Linked DNA regions of Homo sapiens. The protein of the gene in region 1 binds, or shares a complex with, the protein of each later gene. Links are inferred from orthologs where the notes say so. Each region holds a gene or a part of one and is shown on either strand. Other genes may lie near its edges. The genes, in order: BBS7 and ARL6.

Evidence for each region.
Region 2: the proteins of BBS7 (region 1) and ARL6 are in contact, whole or in part, in a cryo-EM structure (PDB 6VBV), measured with the Bos taurus proteins. The link is inferred for Homo sapiens from one-to-one orthologs. Residues at the interface, in NP_001178275.2 of Bos taurus: Leu3, Ile249, Val250, Gly251, Asp300, Gly301, Tyr302, Asp303, Thr319, Glu320, Pro321, His323, Lys324, Glu325, Ser326, Gly327, Pro328; in NP_001069250.1 of Bos taurus: Met132, Asp133, Arg135, Thr139, Ser140, Val141, Ser144, Trp157, His158, Ile159, Cys160, Ala161, Asp163, Lys166.

What each region holds. Positions count from the first base shown.
Region 1 is NC_000004.12:121,865,972-121,878,045, forward strand, and holds the start of BBS7 (BBSome complex member BBS7), read right to left. Parts: upstream 4,504-12,074; 5' UTR 4,343-4,503; coding exon 4,307-4,342; intron 2,076-4,306; coding exon 2,010-2,075; intron 1-2,009.
Region 2 is NC_000003.12:97,764,579-97,776,351, reverse strand, and holds the start of ARL6 (ADP-ribosylation factor-like protein 6), read right to left. Parts: upstream 11,595-11,773; 5' UTR 11,375-11,594; intron 10,362-11,374; exon of another isoform or gene 10,263-10,361; intron 9,721-10,262; exon of another isoform or gene 9,662-9,720; intron 8,272-9,661; 5' UTR 8,245-8,271; coding exon 8,122-8,244; intron 1-8,121. UniProt on the Homo sapiens protein: Involved in membrane protein trafficking at the base of the ciliary organelle. Mediates recruitment onto plasma membrane of the BBSome complex which would constitute a coat complex required for sorting of specific membrane proteins to the primary cilia.

The DNA.
Region 1 (12,074 bases):
AATGATGTTAAGTATTTTTTCATGTTTTTTTGGTCATTTGTATGTATTCTTCTGAGAAATGTTTAGATCATTTGCCCACTTTTTAATCAGATTGCTTGTTTGTTTGCTATTGGTATGTTTGAGTTCCTTGTATATTCTGGATATTAATTCCTTGTTGGATGAGTAGTTTGCAAATATTTTAAATCCCATTCTATAGATTGTCTTTTCACTCTTGTTGATTGTTTCCTTTCCTGTGTAGAAGCTTTTTGGTTTGATATGATCCCACTTGTTTATTTTTGCTTTTGTTGTTTGTGTTTTTGAGGTCTTATTCATTAACTATTTTCCCAGACCAATGTCCTAAAGCATTAACATTTAGGTCTTTTTTTGTTTTTTGTTTTGTTTTGTTTTGTTTTTTTGAGATGGAGTCTTCCTCTCCTGAGTAGCTGGGATTACAGGTGCCTGCCACAATGACAAGCTAATTTTTTTGTATTTCTAGTAGAGATAGGGTTTCACCATGTTGGCCAGGCTGGTCTTGAACTCCTGACCTCAAGTGATCCACTCGCCTTGGCCTCCCAAACTGCAGGGATTACAAGTGTGAGCCACCACACCTGGCCACATTTAGGTCTCTGATCCATTTTGTGTTCATTTTTATATGGGGTGAGAGGTGGGGGTCTTGGTTTCATCCTTCTGCATATGAATATTCAGTTTTCCCAGCACCATTTATTGAAGAGGCTGTCCTTTCCCCAGGGGCTGTTCTTGGCTCTTTTGTCAAAAATCAGTTGGTTGTAGATATGTGGATTAATTTCTGAGTTCTCTATTCCATTTTATGTTCTCTGTGTCTCTGTGTTTTTATGCCAGTATTATGCTGTTTTGGTTACTACAGCTTTGTAGTATATTTTGAGATCTGGTAGTGTAATGCCCCAGCTTTGTTCCTTTTACTCAGGATTGTTTTGGCTATTTGGGGTCTTTGTGGTTCCATACAAATTTTAAGATTTTTTTTCTCTTCCTGTGAAAAATGACATTGGTATTTCGATAGAGATTGCATTGAATCTGTAGATTGCTTTGGGTTGTATTGTTATTTTAACAAAATTAATTCTTCCAATCCATGAACATGGGATGTTTTTCCATTTGTTGGTATCCTCTTTAATTTCTTTCATCAGTGTTTTATAGTTTTTTTTATAGAGGTCTTTCATTTCCTTGGTTAATTTATTCCTAAGTATTTTATCTTTTATCTATTATAATTGGGATTGTGTTCTTGATTTCTTTTTCAGCTAGTTTGTTGTGTATAGAAACACTACTAATTTCAGTATATTAATTTTGTATCCTGCAACTTTACTGAATTCATTTGTCAGTTCTAAGAGTTTTTTGGTAGAGTCTTTAGGTTTTTCTATATATAGGATCATGTCATCGGCAAACAGAGATAATTTGACTCTCCTTTCCAATCTGGATGCACTTTATTTCTTTTTCTTGTATAATTGCTCTGGCTAGGACTTCTAGTACTATGTGTAATTGTTGATTCATCTTGCTAAAATGTTTATATATCAGGATAAAGTATTTTTTTGCAGCTATTAAAATATTTGGCTAGTCTACTAAGAAACTATAATTGTTTTGTGGAAATCATAGGATCAACATTTCTTTAAACATAATCAATATTGTTAGTTAAGTACAGTTTAACATCAAAATATTTAATGACTTTAAAATATGAGAAAGTTTAAAGAGAACATTTTCTTGATACCTTATTCTGCTTTATATTTCTTTTTTCATATACACATCTGACACACAGAAAAAATGGAGTATGGTTTTTAAGTTTGCCTACACTGTTTACTAATGGTATATAATAATTTTAATGTCCAAGAAAATTATTGTCTATAAATGTCCCTTGGTATTCCAGTTTCTGTTCAAATTAAAAAATTCATTTCCATTTTAACATTAGCATTTTTAAGAGAATAACTTAATAATAAAGAAGGAAATAGGAGCCTCTCCTCTGTCACTGCTAGGGAATAGTGGAGAAATCAGAATCTATACAGTACCTTTTGTGTAGCTCTGTGTCTTGAGGCAGGAATTAGCTTCATAGTCTTCTGAGATGTTACTCCCACCTAAAGAAAAACACCAGATGCCTAGTGAATTTAATTTGAAGTTATTACAGAGATTAAAATAAGTTATAGTGAACCTTTTTGTTAAACTGAAATTAGTGATATAACTATTATCAGTAATTAATTTATTTTCTAATGAGATATGTCATATTAGTCAGAATACATATAGGAAACAACCAAAATAGTAAAATTTATCCTATAAAGTTGTCAAGCCAAAAATAGTTGTGTAAGATGACTGGCAAGATGCTTTACTAAAAAATATCTCTAGAAGCCTTCTTTTCCAACTGCATACAGTTGTTCAGCAAAGTGATTCAAGAACTTTGAAAATAGATTATAGTTATTAAAAATGCAACGGAAGACCACATGCAGTGGCTCATGCCTGTAATCTCAGCACTTTGGGAGGCTGAAGTGGGAGGATCACTTGAGCCCAGGTGTTCAACACCATCTAGGCAACACAGGGAGACTCTGTCTCTACAAAAAATAAAAAATTAGCTAGGCATGGTGGTGCATGCCTGCAGGCCCAACTACTTGGAAGGCTGAGGCAGGAGGATAACTTGAGTCCAGGAATTTGAGGCTGTGGTGAGTCATGATCATGCCACTGTACTCCAGACTGGCTGCGTGACAGAACAAGACCCTGTTTCAAAAAAAAAAAAAAAAAAAAAAAAAAAAAAAAGAAGATTTATGCTAAAATACCAAATATGATAATGGCCATAACATCCAATCTAACAGGTGAAGATTATTTTACAAAAAAATACAGAGGATGAAAGCAGCAGGGAACTGTCACTGCTGGTGTATAGTTAGGAGAAGAGGATGGGACCAATGGGAGAGGAATTGGTGAAAACAACACATCATGATAAAACGTTCATATAGTATAAATGACTTTATTCTGCATTCCAGAAAATTGTATTAAAGTCATCTGCTTAGATTTGTATTTCTGAAACATCAATCTAGCAAGTGATGTGAAGGATGGCTTGGAGGGAGATGAAGCTGGAGTTCAGGAGCCCAATTTGGAGGTTATTTCAATTATTCAAGCAAGAGAAGATGAGAACCCAAATGAGGGTAATAGAGATGGAAGATATGGGACAGATTCAAGAGATATTTGGGAGTTAAAAGCAGTAAGATGTGGTGACCAGTTGGATATGGAAGTACATAGCATAAACCCCTAGAAAATTGACTGGGCAAACATTTGTACCATTAACTAAAATGAGGTGGCCTAAAAATATGATGAGGAATTGGGGTAGAGAGAATTTTAGGTCTGAAAGAAATTCTGAAAGGCAGTGTAGTGTAACAAAAATACACCAGTTCTGGAGTCCGAGACTTTGATTCAAATAGCCACTCCCTAATTTTTAGCTATTAAGCAAATTACTTGCCTTCTCTAACCCCTTAGATCCTCATTTATAATATTGTCTACTTTGCAAATTCTTATGAGGATTAAATATGTTGGTAGGTATGCTAAATTCTTAGAATAAGCTAGATGCACATTAAACTGTTGTCATTGCTTTTTTTCCCCCTTTCGAGACAGTCTCGCTCTGTCGCCCCAGCTGGAGTGCAGTGGCATGATGTCAGCTCACTGCAGCCTCCGCCTCCCGAGTTCAAGCGATTCTCCTGCCTTAACCTCCCGAGTACCTGGGATTACAGGCGCCCGCCACCACACCGGGCTAATTTTTGTACTTTTTGTAGAGAAGAGGTTTAACCATGTAGGCTAGGCTGGTCTCGAACTGCTGACCTTAGGTGATCCGCCCGCCTCGGCCTCCCAAAGTGCTGGGATAACAGGCGTGAGCCACTGCCCCCGGCCCGGTTTTCATTGCTTTTACCATGATCTGCCTGGTGCGGTACAGCTCACAGTAAGAAACAAGTGCCTGGTGCTCCGCAAAAGGGTCCGGGTAGAGATGGAGATTGAGGATTAGAGGCCCTCAGGCAGCCACGGCTAGGGAGGAGGAGAAGGGCCCTGGGGGGAATCCGGGATGAGACAGTGTCACATTTTCAGAGCATCCTCAGGACCCGGCAGAAGCCAGTACCGTGGGGGCTTGTGCCGCTTTTCCCCGGTCCCCTCGGACCGTCACAGACGAAAGGGAGCTGCCCAAAGGCGGGGTGCTGAGAGGTCGGCACCCAGCCCGGCTCCTTCGCCTCCGCACCAGCTCCTGGCGACCGAGACTTTCGTCAGTGGAAGGAAGGAATCCTCTCCGGGTGCTGGGCTTGCCCAGCGCGGCGCCCGCCCTATCCCTTGGGTTTACCTGCAGATAATCCATTCGGTTTAAAATCAGATCCATGATGACTACGCGGAGGGGCTAAGCAGCGCCGGACAAGAACAGGAGGGACAGAGGCTTCGGGCCCGCAGGCCTCCGACCCAGTCAGAAGGCTGCCCGCGCCCCTCAAAAGCCAGCCCCAGCTACCGCGCCTAGGTCCTGGGCTGCACAGGCGGGGCGACAGGGCAGTGGCGTCCTGCGTGACGTCAGTACGCTGCTGCGAGGGGCTCCTGGAAGAAGATGAAGGCCCGCCCCTTTCCCGAAGCACCGCCCACTGACAGCGTGTTCCAATCAGAGGCGGAGAGGAACAAAAGAGGCGAGGTCCGGGAGACCCATACAGGGCGGTTTCCACAGAGACCCCAGACGCAGTCTTGGCTCCACCCTCACCGCGGCCCAGGGCTAATACTGGACTTCTTTCCTTATCGCTGTAGAAAAAACTAGATAAGCCTGCTAGATTCTGACCGATTTCACTCTGACATTGGAAAGGGTCCTACAAAGAATTAGGTTCCACCGTTATAGGTGCTAGCTTACAGCAGCGGTTCTTAGACTTTTGGCCTTAGGACTTATTTACAAGACTCTTAAAAACCGTTGAGGAGCACAAAGACCATTTGCTTTTTGTGGGTTTTCTCTCATTTTTAATGTTTTTTTTATTTCAATAGTTTTGGGTGTACAGGCGGGTTTTGGTTACATGGATGAGCTCTTGAGTGGCGAATTCCGAGATTTTAGTGTACCCGTCACCCACCAGTGTACACTGTACCCAATATGTAGTATTTTATCCCTCACCCCGCTCCCAATCTCCTCCCTACCTGGAGTTCCCAGAATCCATTATATCGCTCTGTATGTCTTTGCATCCTCATAACTGAACATGCAGTATTTGGTTTTCTATTCCTAAGTTACTTCACTTAGAATAATGGCCTCCAGTTCCATCCAAGTTGCTGCCAAAAGATATTATTTCGTTCCTTTTTATGGCTGAGTAGTATTCAATGGTGTATATATACTACATTTTCTTTATCCACTCGTTAGTCAATGGGCACTTAGGTTGGCCCCATATCTTTGCAATTGCGACTTATGCTGCTATAAACATGCGTGTATATGTGTCTTTTTCCTTTGGGTAGATACCCAGTAGTGGGATTGCTGGATTGAATGGTAGCTCCACCTTTATTTATTTATTTAAGGAAACTTTATACTGTTTTCCATAGTGGTGGTATTAATTTACATCCCCCAAGCAGTGCAAAAGTGTTCCCTTTTCACCATATCGACACCAACGTATATTTTCTAAATTTTATTTTTTATGTTTATTTTTTTTTTTTTGAGACAGAGTCTTGCTCTTGTCCCCCAGTCTGGAGTGCAATGGCACTATCTCGGCTCACTGCAACCTCCGGCTCCCGGGTTCAAGTGATTCTCCTGCCTCAGCCTCCCGAGTAGCTGGGATTACAGGTGCCCGCCACCACGCCTGGCTGATTTTTGTATTTTTAGTAGAAACAGGGTTTTGCCATGTTGGCCAGGCTGGTCTCGAACTCCTGACCTCGTGATCCGCCTGCCTCATGGCCATTATTGCAGGAGTAAGGTGGTATCTCACTGTGGTTTTAATTTGCATTTCCCTGGTGATTTAGTGATGTTGAGCATCTTTTCATGTTTGTTGGCTATTTGTATATCTTCTTTTGAAAAATGTCCTTTGCCCACTTTTTGATGGGATTGTTTTTTTCTAGCTGATTTGTTTGAGTTCCTTGTAGATTCTAGGTACAAGTCCTTTATCAGATGCACAGTTTGAAAATATTTTCTTTTACTCTATGGGCTGTTTACTGATTATTTCTTTTGCTGTGCAGAAGCTTTTTAGTTTATTTAGGTCCCATTTATTTATTTTTGTTTTTGTTGCATTTGGCTAATGTCCAAAAGAGTTTTTCCAATGTTATCTTCTAAAATTTTTGTGGTTTCAGGTCTTAGATTTAAGTCTTTGATTCATCTTGAGTTGATTTTTGTATAAGGTGAGAGATGGGAATCCAGTTTCATTCTTCTACCTGTGGCTAAACTAGTTTTCCCAGCACCATTTATTGAATAGGGCGCCCTTTTCCCAATTTATGTTTTTGTATGCTTTGTTGAAGATCAGTTGACTGTAAGTACTTGGCTTTATTTCTGGGTTCTCTATTCTGTTCCATTGGTCTATGTGTCTTTATTTATTTATTTATTTATTTTACCTGTACCATGCTGTTTTGGTAACTTGCCTTGCAGTATAATTTGAAGTGTGGTAACGTGATGCCTCCAGATTTGTTCTTTTTGCTTATTATTGCTTTGGCTATTCAGGCTGTCTTTTGGTTCCATATGAATTTTAGAATTTTTTTTTTAGTTCTGTGAAAAGTAGTAATGATATTTTGATGGGAATTGCACTGAATCTGTAGATTGCTTTGGAAAGTATAAAGACCATTTGTTTATATGAGTTACCTATTGATTTTTACCATATTAGACATTAGAACTGAAAACAATTAGTGTTTTTTAAAAACCTATGACAAATATCTTAATGAAAAAAATATTTTCCAAAATAAAAAAATAAAATAACTGGTACTGTGCGCAAATCTATTTTCTGTCCATTTTAATAGTAGACAGGAGGAGCTTCAAATCTGCTACTGCATTCAATCTATTGTTATATGTTGTTTTTGTTCATGTATATGAAGAAAATTTGGTCCAAACTCAACAAGTAGTAGTTTTTTGAAAGGTTAGTTGCAATGTGAAATGTGACTTTGTTACACAACATCAAAAAATTCCATCTGTTAGTATCACCATGGATCTCATCAGTAAAGTCCCGAGTATGGGAGATCTGTCAAACTTAGATGGTGAATACATATTTTCCAAAATTCAAATTTGTGCTTGAAAGTTTGAAATTTACACATTGGCAAGAAATGTCGATTGTTTTCCTTGAACTGATAGGTTCCCTTCTTGAATTCACAAGAAAGTAAATGCCAGATATCTAAGTCTGAATAATCATAATTTGTGAGTAATTCCTTCAAATAAAAAGTGTCCCATGAAAAAAGCAGGAAGTTCAGCTAGCAGCTCAATCCCACAAGTGCTTTTCCTTGAGACAACTAATGTATTTCAGTATTCAGTAGAAGGATTTTATACATACTTCTTATGTCCTCACATAGAACATTTAAAAAGACATATTCAAGAGTTAAGATGTAATAAATGAGGGCTGAATCAGAAGAAAGAAAAAAGAAAAAAAGATAATATTAACAATGTTGCTGCTTCGTTAAGAACATTTTTATATGAAATGGTTTTTGTTTCCTATCAGTGCATGTTATATAGAATATGGTGTCTACTAGTACAGTTTGGAGCCACTATTTTGATTTATGCTTAAGCACTAGCAGTATTAACCACCATTGTTTCGGTACCATCAGTGCAAATGTCAGCAGAGTGAAATGGCAAATCACAACTTAGTGTTATGAAAATAGTTTCAAAATTGCAGACAGCTGTGAAAAGGCCTCAGGAACCACCCCTGCCCCTCGGGGCCCCACAGACTACTACTGACCCATAGTGACCCAGGATTTAAGAGCTGACATTCTTTGACTCACTTTCATCGGTCCTTCCTTAATGTGCATAGAGCTCTGCCTGGGGAAATACAGATAAGTTCAGATACAGCTACTTTCCTGATTCTTGTGGTTTTTCTTTTTCTTTCTTTCTTTTTTTTTTTTTTTGTAGAGATGGAGTTTTGCCATGTTGCCCAGGCTGGTATTGAACTCCTGGGCTCGAGTGGTCCGCCCACCTCAGCCTCCCAAAGTTCTGGGATTACAGACATGAGCCACTGTGGTTTTCCAGGAAAGAGTTCACAAATAATTGTGAAACAAAAAGAATTAAATCCCTGAGAAGAGGTGCTTCTTAAGAAGAGAAGTTATTTACTGCAGCAATATCTGAAAAAGTTTTCCCTGTGTTCCAGACAATTATATCTCTGAGGCTAAAATAATCCCACATTAAAATAGACAATACATGTAGATGGGTTAGCTGTTCAGCAATTTGGGGGAAATATATATCAATTTAGATTCAAGAAAAAAATACAAATAAATTTTAGAAGTCAACTGAAAAATAAAGCCATAGAAAAGACAGAAGAAAATAGAATTGTATAGCATTTTACAGAATTTTGGAGGTTGGAGGATATAGTATTAGTTTGCTAGGGCTGCCATAGCAAAGTAGTACACACTGGGAGGCTTTTCAACAACAGAAATTTATTTTCTCACAGTCTTGGAGTCTAGAAGTCATAGATCAAGGTGTCAGCAGGGAATAAAACCGATCTTCAGAGGCCTCTCTTCTTGGCTTATAGATCGTCATCTTCTCCGTGTCTTCACGTGGTCCTCCCTCTATGTCTGTCTGTGTCTCATCTTGTCTTTTTATAAGCACACCAGTCATATTATCTCATTTTAAATTAATTACCTCTTTAAAGACCCTATCTCCAACTATAGTTATAGTCTGAGATACTGAAGGCGAGGACTTTAACATGAGTTTTGAGGGGACACAATTCAGCCCATAACAGAAGGAAACTGATCTCAAAAGGAATAGAAGAAACCACAAAGGAAAAAAGCAGATATGGTGTTACATGCCTGTAGTCTCAGCTATTTGAAGGCTGAGGCTCAAGATTGCTTGAGCCCAACAATCCAGCCTGGGCAAAATAGCAAGGCCCCATCTCTAAAAAACAAACAAAAAACTAACTTAAAAAAAATGAAAAGTAAAGATAAACATTTCAATATGTCACAACAATGTTTAAATGAAAACAAAAATATAGGAGAAAAGAGTTAATATCTTAAAAAATAGTTCATACAAATTAATAATGAAGAAATACTATGGTTCTAATAAATAGGTAAAAAAAAAAACACCAAAGACAGACAATGCTGGCAGTGCTTACTTTCCATTTAGCAAGTGATGTCCACTGTTCAATTAATTGTGTAGAAGGAAAGTAAAAGTTTATTTTGAAGCTCAAATTTATTTTAAAACAGTGAAATGAGGCTATGATATAGCATCAAAACAATACAAAAAGTTTGCATAATATGATATTTGGAATTCTTTGATTTTGCATCTAAAAATGCAATTTATTATTTTTAAAGTACATACTATGTTTTGTTTCTAAATGATTAGTAAAGATTTCAACCTACTAATTTTAAGTATTCCTCAAATAATTAATTAGCAGGGTAAGGAATTTTTATTCACAATAAAGAAAATGTCAAGTTAAATTACCACTGTGTGTCCTCTTTTTAAAGATGTTTTAGGGTATCAGAGACATCTTGGTGGTCTTTATAAAACTCAACAGAAGATGGCTGCCTCTCAGATGTGACAAAGACCACTTTAGAGACAAATTTGCAGAATTACCATGCACCTCAGTAATTTATAACCTTATGTTATGGTGCTAAAGCAACCATTATGAGTATAAGTTAAACAACTTATGGCTAAAAATAAAAGCAATTTAAACTGCATTAAAGTTAAAACCATCAACACGCTAGTGGTGGTCAGCTGAGTGACTGAGTCATGAGTAAAAACATTAGTTTCCCCTAACACATGGTATAAATTTAGAAATTCTCAAACTCTTTTTTAAACTGAACAAAGTTATAAATACCCATTTTAGATTTTTTTTTTTTTTTTTTTTTTTTTTTGTGGGGGGTGGTTCACTTTGTCACCCAGGCTGGAGTGCAGTGGCGTGAACCAGCTCACTGCAGCCTCAACTTCCTGGGCTCAAGTTATCCTCTCACCCCAGCCTCCTGAGTAACTGGAACCACAGACACATGCCACCATGCCCGGCTAATTTTTTTTGTATTTTTTGTAGAGACAGTTTCACCATGTTGCCCTGCTGGTCTCGAACTCCTGAACTGAAGCCATCGACCTGCTTCAACGTCCCAAAGTGCTGCGATTACAGGTGTGCACCACTGTGCCCAGCCTGATTTTGGGAGGCTGAGGCAGGAGGATCGCTTGAGGCCAAAAGTTAAAGACTAGCCTGGACAACATAGTGAGACCCGCCTCTAAAAATGTATTTTAAAAACTTTATTTAAAAAATTTAAAAAGACATGGAAAGAAAGATTACCACCTTGGATGATGACATTAACCTCCTAAAACACCTCTATGAGCTCCAGGGACTAGGAACCCCTGATGTAGCATAACCCTGTTTGCCTGAACCATTTATGAAGACCAGAGAAGTTAAATGGTTTGTCCCATACCACAGTCATTAGTGTGGCTTCAGTTCTCTTTAGACATTGTCCATCAGACAATTTATCTTCCCATTTACAAAAGCTGCTTTCACTTGGCTTGCACATTTGAAATATAAATATATTGACATATTGGGTAAGATAGTTATCCTAAATTGTACCAAATTTGCTTTTAATAATCACAACATATCATTTTTGTTTTTATTGTGCATAAACTCTGTAAAGATACTCTGTACCATTTTTCAAAGTTTTCTCATTATTTCAAGTCTAAGAACCCAAACTTTTCAACAGATTGTGACTTCCATAAAGTCATGGGTGCTCTGTAAATTCAATACAGCAGGCACTTACAAAGTACCCAACTTTTCGAACAATAAGTCTAAGAAGCACTTTGAGTGTTGCTTTCTTTTCTTTATCTGTAAATGAGAAAAAAATAAGAATAGCAAAGAGGTAAAAAATGAGAGATGTCCTAAGGAAAAAAGAGTCCTGGGGCTTTGACAATCCTTTAATTAATGTTTTTTTCTATAAAGTTGTTTTTGGTCCTGTTTAAATGCTCCCTTCTCTGAGTTGCCCCAACAACTTCTTTGAGGTTTGTTTTCCCAAAGGTACCTGTTAAAAGTGACTAGGGAAAAGACTTGCTGACCCAGAGCTATCTTTATCCTCAAGTGAAGGACTAATTCTGACAGCAATCCCCTCGACTAATCCTCATCTCAACCGTATGCTACCACATTAATACCTTATGGCTTAGTGTGAGTTCCCTAAAAGCAAAACCTAATAAGATTTGGATGTGGTGACTCATTAAGGGGATGCTCTCTGGAGAAAGGGAAGGAAGGAAACTGGAAAAGGCAGAGGAAGAATCTAAACCAGGATTTCATCTCAGCTTGAGTCTGGCATCACCCTAATCCTTTCAGGAGCTCTGGAGCATGAACTGCACTGAATAGTTGGCCCCATCTTGAGACAAGGGGCCAGCCCTTTGTGCCCCCACCCATCAGTCACTGGCCATGGGGAGGCGGAGGCATCACATCCCGAGCAAGGCTTCTTCTTTTTAGCTGAGGGCAATTCTCCAGGGGAAGTGATTGGCTAGGAACTGCACAGGAGAATCTGGGAGACAGGTGCACTGGTCCAGTAGAGGGCATCTGGGCAGGGCATCAAAAACATCAACCACACTCACTACACCTTGTCATCACACCTTCTTCTGAAACAACACCTTGAAATGATGAATAAGGAAAAAGATGAAATATTAAAACTATACCAGTTTGTACATAGTAAATAAAGAAAAAATGCCTGTTAAGAGCTCTACAGTTGTGAGGGGCATGGACAAAAAAAAAAAAAAAAAAAAGTCAGCTTTTTATCCACATGGTGTGGATACCATGAGGCTTATCTTCATACTTCTCTGATCTTCAGATTCCAAGAATCTTAGGCTGAATGTCCCCAGCTGAATCTGCCACTTTTTCATTCAACATTTTTTCCAACCGCAAAGAAGAAAATTACAAAATATTCAGTTCCATAGCTATAAGCAAAAACTTTTCACACTTGGAATCCTGGACCATACTATAAAACTATCAGAAACATCTATTATAGAAACT
Region 2 (11,773 bases), on another chromosome or scaffold:
TCCACAAAAAACTCATTTCATCTATGAAGATACACACAGGCTGAAAACAAAACGGATAAAGACATTCCATGTAAATGAAAACCAACAAACAGCAAGATTAACTATACTCATATCAGATAAAACAGATTACAAGTCAAAGACTATAAAAAGAGACAAAGTAAATCACTATATGAGGAAAAAGGAGTAAATTCAGAATGAGAATATAACAATTGTAAATATATGTGCCTTCAACATGGGAACACCGTATATATTAACCAAACATTAATAGAGCTAAAGGGTGAGAAAGACTGCAATACAATAACAGCAGAGGACTTCAACACCCCATTCTCAGTAATAGACAGATCATTCAGACAGAAAAATCAACAACAAAAGAAATCCAAGTTAAACTGAACTCTAGACCAAATGGACCTAATAAACATTTATGGAACATTCCATCCAACAGCTGCAGAATATACATTATCTTCATCATCAAATGGAACATTCTCTAAAATAGATCATGTTAGGCAACAAAACAAATCTCAACAAATTTTAAAAGGTAGAAATCATATCAAGTATCTTTTCTAACCACAATGGAATAAAACTAGAAATCAATAATGAGAGGAACTTTGGAAACTATAAAAACACATGGAAATTAACATGCTTCCTAATATTCAATGGGTGAATGAAGAAATTAAGAAGGAAATTCAAAAGTTCTTTGTGATGGTTAATACTAAGTGTCAATTTGATTGGATTGAAGGATGCAAAGTATTGATCCTGGGTGTGTCTGTGAGGGTGCTGCTAAAGGAGATTAACATTTGAGTCAGTGTGCTGGGAACAATCACCTTAATCTGGGTGGGAACAATCTAATCAGCTGCCAGTGTGGCCAGAATATATAAAGCAGGCAAAAAAAAAACCTGAAAAGGCTAGGCTGGCTTAGCCTCCCAGCCTACATCTTTCTACCGTGCTGGATGCTTCCTGCCCTTGAACATCAGACTTCAAGTTCTTCAGTTTTGGGACTCGGACCGGTTTCCTTGCTCCTCAGCATGCAGATGGTATATTGTGGGACTCTGTGATCACGTGAGTTAATACTACTTAATAAACTCCCCTTTATATGTATATCTATCTATCCTATTAGTTCTGTCCTTCTAGAGGACCCTGACTAATATAGATTTTGGTACCAGGAGTGGTTCTAGAGGAACAGAATATTAAGGATGGAGTTCTTTCATTGGTTTTGGGGTTTCTGGAGTTGGCTGCTTAATATGATTAGACCCCAAAATGCTAAGGACTCTACTTTTAATAGTATGGAGAACACTGATAGTCCTTGGCACGAACTGTTTAGAGAGTTATGCAAAATAAATGCATTTGACACTCTTGATTCACTGCTCGTGAGCGGTAAGTAGTTTAGTGACTCTATACATAATACCTTTGACTATATGTGGAGAACCAAGGAACATAATGAAGTTGGTTGGTTGCTCTTAAGTTCACTGGACAAAGTAATGAAAGAAAATTATGAACTCAGGGATTGTAACTCCCAGCTTCAGAAGCACATACTGAGCCTCAAAGCTGCTAAGACTGCCCTGAGTGAGAGTCTTATCTCCTGTAGAGAAAGAGCTGAAATTGTGGAAAAACAGGCACAAGCTCTTATATCAGTTGCTGACCTGCAATGAAAGGTGCATGCACAGCCTCGCCAGGTACCTACTGTTGAAGTGAGGGCATTGATTGGAAAAGAATGGGACTCTGCAACTTGGAATGGGGATGTGTGGGAGGACCCTGATGAAGCTGGGGACACCAAGCTTGTAAACTCTGATGAACCTTGTTTTGCCAGAAGAAACAGCTTCCCCATTCCCAGTAGTGGCAACATCCCCTCCCCCACCCATGCTGCCATCAGCCTTTCCACCTTTGTCTGAGGAGATAAACCCTGCGCTGCCTGGGACAACAGTGATGGCCTCCCCTGAGGCAGTTGCCAGGCAAGATAATGTTGATTCTCCTCAAGAGTCACCCTCAATACCCCCGCCTGCTTCTAGAATCCCGGGGGGATTCTAAACTAAAATCCCGGAATAACTAAACTATAACTAAAATCCTGGGGGGGCCCCAGAGGTAAGGTTGAGAGTGTGATCCATGAGGTGGTGCACTACACTCAAAAAGAACTGCTCGAGTTTTCTAATTTATATAAACAGTAATCTGGAGAACAGGCTCCTCCTACCTTTAAGTCAACAAGCTAAGAAGGGAGTTAGTGTTGGCTGGGGTGACTATCCGGGACTATCAAGATGAAATCAGACTATCACTCCACAACGGAGGTAAGGAAGAGTATGTATGGAATATAGGAGATCCATTAGGGCATCTCTTTGTATTACCATGCCCTGTGATTAAGGTCAATGGGAAACTACAACAGCCCAATCTGGCAGGACTACATATGGACCAGACCCTCCAGGAATGAAGGTTTGGGTCACTCCACCAGGAAAAACAAACAAACAAACAAACAAAAGCAGCACCTGCTGAGGTGCCTGCTGAAGGCAAAGGGAATACAGAATAGGTAGTAGAAGAAGGTAGTCATCAATACCAGCTGTGACCACATGACCAGTTACAGAAACAAAGACTGTAACTGCCATGAGTATTTCCTCCTTTTGTTAAAAACATGTTTGTGTACATATAAACTTGTACTATGAAAATATATTCATTTTATTTTCTTTTTCCTTTATCATGTGACATAAGATTTATTAACTTCATTTCAGCATTTAAATACTGTTGACTTTATGTAATAGCATTTGGGTTGGGGATTGGTATATTTCCGGTTGTACGAAGGATAGTTGTATTATGTTAGGCATAATTATGACCTTATTATTGTCCTTATTTGAACATTATGTATGATCTCAGGAGATGTGTATTGACAAGGGGTGGACTTGTGATGGTTAATACTGAGTGTCAACTTGATTGGATTGAGTGATGCAAAGTATTGATCCTGGGTGTGTCTGTGAGGGTGCTGCCAAAGGAGATTAATATTTGAGTCAGTGGGCTGGGAAAGACAGACCACCCTTAATCTGGCTGAGTACCATCTAATCAGCTGCCAGTGCGCCCAGAATATATAAAGCAGGCAGAAAAATGTGAAAAGGTAAACTGGCTTAGCCTCCCAGCCTACGTCTTTCTCCCATGCTGGATGCTTCCTGTCCTTGAACATCGGACTCCAAGTTCTTCAGTTTTGTGACTCAGACTGGCTTCCTTGCTCCTCAGCCTGCAGACAGACTATTGTGGAGCCTTGTGACTGTGTGAGTTAATACCACTTAAGAAACTCCCCTTTATAGATATCTATCCTATTAGTTCTGTCCCTCTAGAGAACCCTGACTAATACATTCTTAAATGAAAAGGGAAATACAACATACCAAAATCTATGGATACTGCAAAACCAGTACTAACCAAGAAGTTTATAGCAATAAACACATACATCAAAAAAGTAGCAGCCAGGCGTGGTGGCTCACACCTGTAATTCCAGCACTTTGGGAGGCCGAGGTGGGCAGATCACCAGAGGTCGGAGTTTGAGACCAGCCTGACCAACATGGAGAAACCCCATCTCTACTAAAAATACAAAATTAGCAGGGCATGGTGGTGCATGCCTATAATCCCAGCTACTTGGGAGGCTGAGGCAGGAGAATCGCTTGAACCCGGGAGGCAGAGGTTGTAGTGAGCCGAGATCACACCATTGCACTCCAGCCTGGGCGACAAGTGCAAAAATCCATCTCAAAAAAAAAAAAAAAAAAAGTAACAAGCCTTCAAATAACCCAATGATGCACCTCGAACAACCAGAAAAGGAAGAACAAATCTAAACCAAAATTAATAGAAGGAAATAAATAAAGATCATAACAAAAATAAATGAAAGTGAGACTAAAAACATACAAAAGATCAAAGAATCAAAAAGTTGGCTTTTTGAAATTATAAAATTGAGAAGACATTAGATAAACTAGGAAAAAAAAAGAGGATCCAAATAAATGAAATTAGAACTTAAGAATGAGAAATAACAACTGATACCACAGAAATACAAGGGATTATTAGAGATTATTATGAAAAACTACATGCCAACAAATTGGATAACATAGAAGTGGATAAATTGCCGGACACATTCAACCTACTGAGATTGAACTATGGAAAAATAAAATACCTGAACAGGCCAATAATGAGTAAGGAGATCAAAGCACTAATATAAAGTCTCCCATTAAAGAAAATATTAGGACCTGATGGCTTCACTATGGAATTCTACCAAACATTTAAAAAACAAATACTAATTCAACTCAAACGATCCCAAAAAGTAAAGAGAAGGAAACACTTCCAAACTCATTTTACAAAACTGGCATTAATCTGACACCGAAACTAGTCAGGAATACAATGATAAAACTACAGGCCAATATCCCTCATGAACATAGATGCAAAAATCTTCAACAAAATGCTAGCAAAACTGAATCTAACAACCTATTAAAAAGTTCATTCACCATGATCAGTAGGATTCATCCCAGGGATGCAAGGATGGTTCAACATACACAAATCAATATATGAGCCCATAAGATTAATAGTATCAAGGACAAAACCATATGATCATTTAAATAGACGTTGAAAAAACTTTTGATAAAATTCAACATCTCTTTATGACAAAAACTCTCAACAAATTGGATTAAAAGAACCATACCTCAAACAATAAAGGCTAAATAAATGACAAAACCATGGCTAATATACTAATATTATACTGGTGGAGCTAATATACTGAATGGAGAAAAACTAAAAGCCTTTCCTCTAAACCTGGATCAAGACAAGGATGTTCATTTTCACCACTTTTACTCAAAAACAATACTAGAAGTTCCAGCCAGAGCAATTAGGCAAGAAAAATGAAGGTCATCAGTATTGGAAAGAAATAACTCAAATTATCCTTGTTTGCAGATGACATGTTCTTATATTTAGAAAAACCTGAAGACTCTACCAAAAATACTGTTAGAACTGATAAAGAGATTCAGTTAAGTTTCAGGATACAAAAGTCCACATATAAAAATCAGTAGCATTTATATACACCAAGAACAAACAATCTGAAAATGAAATCAAGAAAGTAATCCCATATATAATAGCTATAAAAAATATAAAATACTTAAGAATAAATCCAACCAAAGATCTCTACAATTAAAACTATAAAATATTGATAAAAGAAATTGAAGAGGACACAAAAACATGAAAAGCTATTCTATCTATGCTCATGGATTAAAAGAATTATCACAGTTAAAATATCTATACCACCCGAAGAGATTAACAGAGTCAATGCAATCCCTATCAAAATACCAATAACATTCACAGAAATATAAAAAGAATCCTAAAATTTATATGAAACCATAAAAGACCCCAAATAGCCAAAATAATCCTGAACAAAAAGTACAAAGTTGGAGGTACCACACTATCTGACTTCAAACTATACTACAAAGCCATGATAACCAAAACAGCATAGTTTTGGCATAAACACACACACACAGACCAACAGAAGAGAACAGAGAAGCCAGAAATAAATCCATGTATTTACATCCAACTCATTTTCCAAAAAGACATCCAAGAACATACATTGGGAAAAGGATAGTCTTATGATGCTGGAACACTGGATAAACACATGTAGAAGACTGAAACTAGACCCCTATCTCCCACCATATACAAAAGTCAACTAAAAATGGATTAAAGACTTAAATCTAAGACCCAAAACTATCAAAGTACTAGGAGAAAACACAGGGAAAATGCTTCAGGACACTGATTTGGGCAGTAAGACCTCAGAAGCACATGTAACAAAAGCAAAAATAGACAAATTGGACTATATCAAGCTACAAAGCTTCTACACAGCAAAGGAAACAATCAACAAAGTGAAGAGATAATCTACAGAATTACAGAAAATATTTACATAATATCCACTCAACAAAGGATTAATAACCAGAATACAGAAGGAACTCAATTCAGTAGCAAGGAAAAACAAAACACAAAAAATCTGACTAAAAAAATGGGTAAAAGATCTGAATAGACATTTCTCAAAAGAATATAGACAAATGGCCAACAGGCATATGAAAAAAATGCTCATCATTATTCATCAGGAAAATATATATCAAACTACAATGAGATATTATTTCACCCCAGTTAAAATTGCCTTTATCAAAAAAGGCAAAAAAATAATGAATGCTGGTGAAGATGTAGAAAAGGGGGAACTCTCGTAGATTGTTGGTGGGAATGCAAATTAGTGTAGCCACTATGGAAAACAGTATAGTGTTTCCGCATGAAACTAAAAATAGAACTCCCATAAGATCCAGCAATCCCACTGTGGGAATATATCCAAAAAAATGGAAATCAATGTATCAAAGAGATACCTGCACTCCCAAGTTTATAGCACCACTATTCACAATAGCCAAGATATGGAATACACTTTTGTCCATCAATGGATGTATGGATAATGAAAATTTGGTACATATACACAATGAAATATTATTCAGCCATAAAAAAGACTGAAATCCTGTCATTTGCAGCAATATGGAGAGAACTGAAGGTCATTAAGTTAAGTGAAATAAGCCAGGTCCAGAAAGACAAGTATCACATGTTCTCACTTGTTTGTGGGATCTGAAAAAGTAGATCTCATAGAGACATAGAGTAGGTGGTTACCAGAGGCTGGGAAGGGTAGGGCGGAGAGAGGGGTGGAGAGAGGTTCATTAATAGGTATAAAAATACAGTTAGATAAAGGAATAAGACTTAGTGTTTGATAATTCAGTAGAGTGACTATAGTCAACAATAATTTACTGGATATTTCAAAATAGCCAGAAAAGAAGAATTAGAATGTTCTGAACATACAAAAAAGATAAATTTTTGAGGTGATGGATATCCCAGTGACTCTGATTTATTATGCATTGTATGCATGTATCAAACTATCACATGTAACCCCTAAATTTGTATCAATAAAAAATGATATAAAAACTGGATGATGTGACAATAAAGATTGGTAGTGGAATAAAGATTGAAATTTTTGAAAAAGGTATATAGAGTCTATCTCTAAAAAAATGACAGCTAAGACTAGATTCTTGAAAAAAGCGATCAGATTAAAATGTCCTCCCTCTCTCCCTATTCTAAAATGCCAGCAACCTCAGTACATTAACAATAAATAAACATAAAGATAGCTTAATATGAAAAACTAGTTTGTGTCCAGGAAAGAACTACTTACCTAGAAACTGATTTTATCCACAAAAATGAGACAATTTTACTATAAAATGAGATGGGCACTATTTTTTTGCAAGGCATTTCCTATCACAGCATTGTACATTTCTGTACTTATTTTATTTAATTCCTTAAAAATAATGTTCTAGTAGTGGATGTAAGCTTACAAGAGACTCTTCTTGAGCTTGGTGTAGGAAGGGAGCAAGTGTTGTATCTACATCTATAACTGAGTGACAGAGGTTTGAAACCCCTCAAGAAGTCCCATTTCAAGTGGCTCCTTGGCTGTTACCATTACCATAAAAAAAAGAAAAAAAAGCAAAGCCAATCACTTTTCTCTGGACCTGGAGGTCAGTTTTTCTGATAAGGCAGGAGAGTTGTCCAAACATAAAGGCTCAGGAATTGGTGCCAGAAATTAGGAAAGCCCTATTAGATAGGCTTTCTTTATATGCAGCAGACTTTAACTTTAACTTATACATCACATGTTAAATGTGCTAGCTTTATATATTTTTCAGTTATTACAATATGTCCATACACTTGTTGCTTAAAATCATCTTGCTTACTATTACTAATATGCATACTATACTTTCAAAAATTGTCTAATTATCCATAGAACCTATAAAAATGTTTCACCTTTCTCTGTTTTGCTCCTCCTGTAAGGAGGAAACTAAAAAGAAGGCAATGACATTTAAAGTAAACTCAGTAAATCTGTGAAGAACTTTTGAAAGAAAAGACATTTGAAAATAATATTCCAGTTTAATAATTAAAATTTACTGTGTAAAATATACTGCAAATTATGGCTGAGGATACTTAAAGGTACTGAAAGGTTAACAGAATATCTTAATGTGATTATATGCGGTTTTAACGTCATATAACATAATTCTGCACATTAATTTTCTTTAGTAGCAGAAAATACATAAAGCATCTAACAAAGATACTTACATTTGAAGGTTTAAGTTTGTTAATGATCGTCGTTTTGCCACTATTATCTAGCCCAAGGCACAAAACATGAACCTCCTTCTTCTTCAGGCCAAGCAAGACTGAAAGTCTGTCTAGCAATCCCATAATGTGATTCAAATATTTACAAACCAGCTGCAATTAAGAAAAAATAAAATATTACCCAAAGGCACCTTAAGTTATGGAAAATATTGGTAGGTGTATTAAAAAAAGGTAATAATTTAAATACACATAATAATAGTGTGAAAACTATGTCAATGTAGCTTTGCACTTAGTAAACACAGTGTAAGCTGATTACCAGAAAGGAGCCTTAACTGACACGCAGATTTGCAGCTTATAACAGGTGGCAACACAGAACAATGCCTTGGAAATAACAACATTTCTCTCTGTAATTTATCATATTTAAGAATAAAACATGGTCAGCCTCAGTATCATTTGGAGTCTGCGAATTGTGATACTTGAAAATATGGAAGAATTAGGCCGTAGCCTTTCCAGAAAATCTGAAACAATGAATGGGCAATGGGGTTCATGTAGAAGGCAGAAAGTAGAAGGCAGATCTGAAAAGCAGACAGATTTTGAGATTTTGGTGATATCATTTAAGCCACTGTTAAATCTTTATCAGAAGCCAGCCCCATTGTTATATTTTGTAATAATATGAAGTTACAATAAATTCACTTTTTTTTTGCTTGCTTGGTTATTTCCAGTTTAAGTAGGGTTTTCTCTCAGTAGAAGCAAAGAATCCTGAAATACTTATCCTTATTTCCCCTTATCCTATACATACATCTTTGTAAGTCACCACAAATCCCTTTGTGAAGAAGGTTATGCATAAATACATACACACATTCAATTTATTGAACCTTACTAAATATCTGTTTTTTAACTGTAACTTATCTGAAACATCCTCCTAAGTGCTATTTTAAAAGGACTTTATCGTATTAGTATAGAATAAGGAAGTAAATACTGATTGTAGATTTTAATTTAGTTTTTTAAGTATCTTAAAAATTTCTTTGTTAACTTGTCCCTAAAGTGTTCATTTCTCTTGTTCAATTGTATTGATTCTTTGAAAAAAAAATTCTTTCTAATGCAAACTTAAAAAAAAACTATCAGCAATCCAAAAATAGAAGTATTTGGAAGTCAAATAAAACTGCTGTGTACATAAAACTTGCTATGTGGTAACTTTATGGCTGTTTATATTCATCTAAGGTACTGTTAAATTTACACTTCAGGTCTCCAAACTAAACTTTTCAAAGGAGCTCACTTTGGGTCCATTGCTCCCCAAACCATTACTTTGTGGTAGAAGGACAGGGAGATAGATCCCTTTTTCCAGCCCCCAACTGCTGCAGGAACTGCTACAATATATCTATGTACCAAATATTTCTCATTACTCACCAACATTAGTTCTCTAATGTTTTTATTCTCATTAAATTGACTTATTCTCATCTCCATCTAAGGTTGCATAAGCAACCTGTCATATTACAGTTTCTTCAATACTTTTTATTCCATACAATTTCAGGCAAGGCCATACCTTGAAGGATGTGAGGCTGCAGCAACTTTATCAATAACAGGCTTCCAAGACAACTGTATCTAAAAGGAGGTTGCATAGTCAACATTTTGCTTAGGCCTTTTGGGATATGATTATGGGTAGAAATTTCAAAACTAAATTTCAGTGATGTGCAGAGAAGAGATGGAACAGTGCCATGCCAAAAGGTGAGGCCTATTACAGAACCACGTTTGTCTTTCCCCAAGGATGAGTTTGACCTCAGGTACTTCCATTTGTGCCACTTCAATCTGCTTTTCTCCTTGTATCAGAGATTCAAATCTTATTCAGTCCATTTCTTTAAATTACAGCTTAAGGACCAGCATTTGTAAAATCTATTTTAAATTAACCTTCTGATGTCATGAAGCAATTCACACATACCATTTGATTTCAAAGTAAATTTGCTATTACTCACTTTATTTACTGCATAAACATATTGATATAAATGCTTATATCTTGTTCTCCATTTCATAATTTAGAACTTATGTTTTAAAAACGACAACTTCTCACATTTTCCCCCCTTTAAGCATCTACTATAAAGCACTGAGTGTTTAAAGCCTGATGCTTGAATATTCGTTTTTCACAGTACCTTGTATTGTGACTTTCCATCACTTTTCCATGGATTATCACTTGATACTTGTTAATGAAATATTTTGGGACACACAATTTAGAAGAGCAGGCAGTTTTTCTAAAAGAGGTAATCACATTTATTGAAATTGCTTTATAAACAACTATCATAGAGCCTTTAAACTTCTACGTTTCAAGTAGTTATAATTTTCCTTCCATAAGTTGACTTTCTGCATGCATAAATAAAAGATAATTGAAGCCAGTCAATATTTGTTAATCGTGTCTTAAGTGTGCAGCGAGAGACACAACTGTTTTCTGCAGCTTCCTACTCTGATAGCCATGATTCTCAACCCTGGCTGCACTCTGAAATCAATTGCTGAATCCGAATTTTTGAAAATAAGATCAGGGCATCTGTAGTTTTAAAAGCTACCCAGTGTTTCTGATGTGAAGTTACTATTGAGAACTACTGGCTTTCAGAATAAAGCCAGTAGTTTCAAACTTCCAAGCACAGCTTTTAAGGTTGTCCACAATCTGGCTCCAATCTTCCTTTCTTGTTTCTTATCTTACTGTAACCCTCTCTTTGCACACCAGCCAAATTCTCTTGGTTATTGTCTGACAGACTGTTTCCTAAAGGATTACATATTGCCAGAGAAGTCCAGAAGAATTAGGATGTTATCCACAGTTAACAGCTTAGAGGGTAAGCTGCAGAGACAGAGTGGTAGCCCAGAGAAAACACCACGAATGATACTTAGTAAACTCTGTAAAGTGTTTGTTGATTGAAATGTTGCCTACTTTTATTACCCCAAATAAACATTCTTATTCGGCTTTCAGTTTTTTATGATATAATTTAAATTACACTTACACACACACACACACACACACACACACACACACACACACCCCCAATACACGGGTCTAAGTTGAGCATTGTTAAAACCCATCAACCAAACATACGTCCAAACCAGTTTAGTAAGTTTTCTAGGGCCTCTATAACTCACCTTCTTTTCTACTTCTCATACATTAGCAACAACTACACGCGTGGAGTGAAAAACATGGGAAAGACCAAAGAGGAATTCTAAAACTGACGGGGACAGAGGGTGGCGCTGGCTTTAAAAACCGGCGTTGAGGAGATACCTGGTTTTTGAGGTTAGTCCGGAGGGCGCAGGAGCTGGCAACAGGAATGGACGCACTCGTATCGGTCTCCGGGATGGAAATCTGGTGCGAGGGTCCCTCAGCCTTCTTCTCGATGCCTACATGGGAAGGATGCCTGGTAATGAGCAAAGCCGTCTCTAGAAGTTGGGAAAACCGGCAGCCTCTGCAGCAGTCTGTGCATCAGTCGCTGAGCAGGCGCCTTGGCAGGCACCGTTCCCTTGGCAACAGGAGCTTCTTCCGGTCCTGAAGCCACGCCTCCCCGGGGGTCCTGGCGATTCAGCCGTTGTGCTATAGCTTCTGGGATTGAAGAGCTCCGGGAAAAGGTCAGAGGCGCGCCGAGGAACTATACATTGAAGAAAAATGTGTGCACAGGTGGCAGGG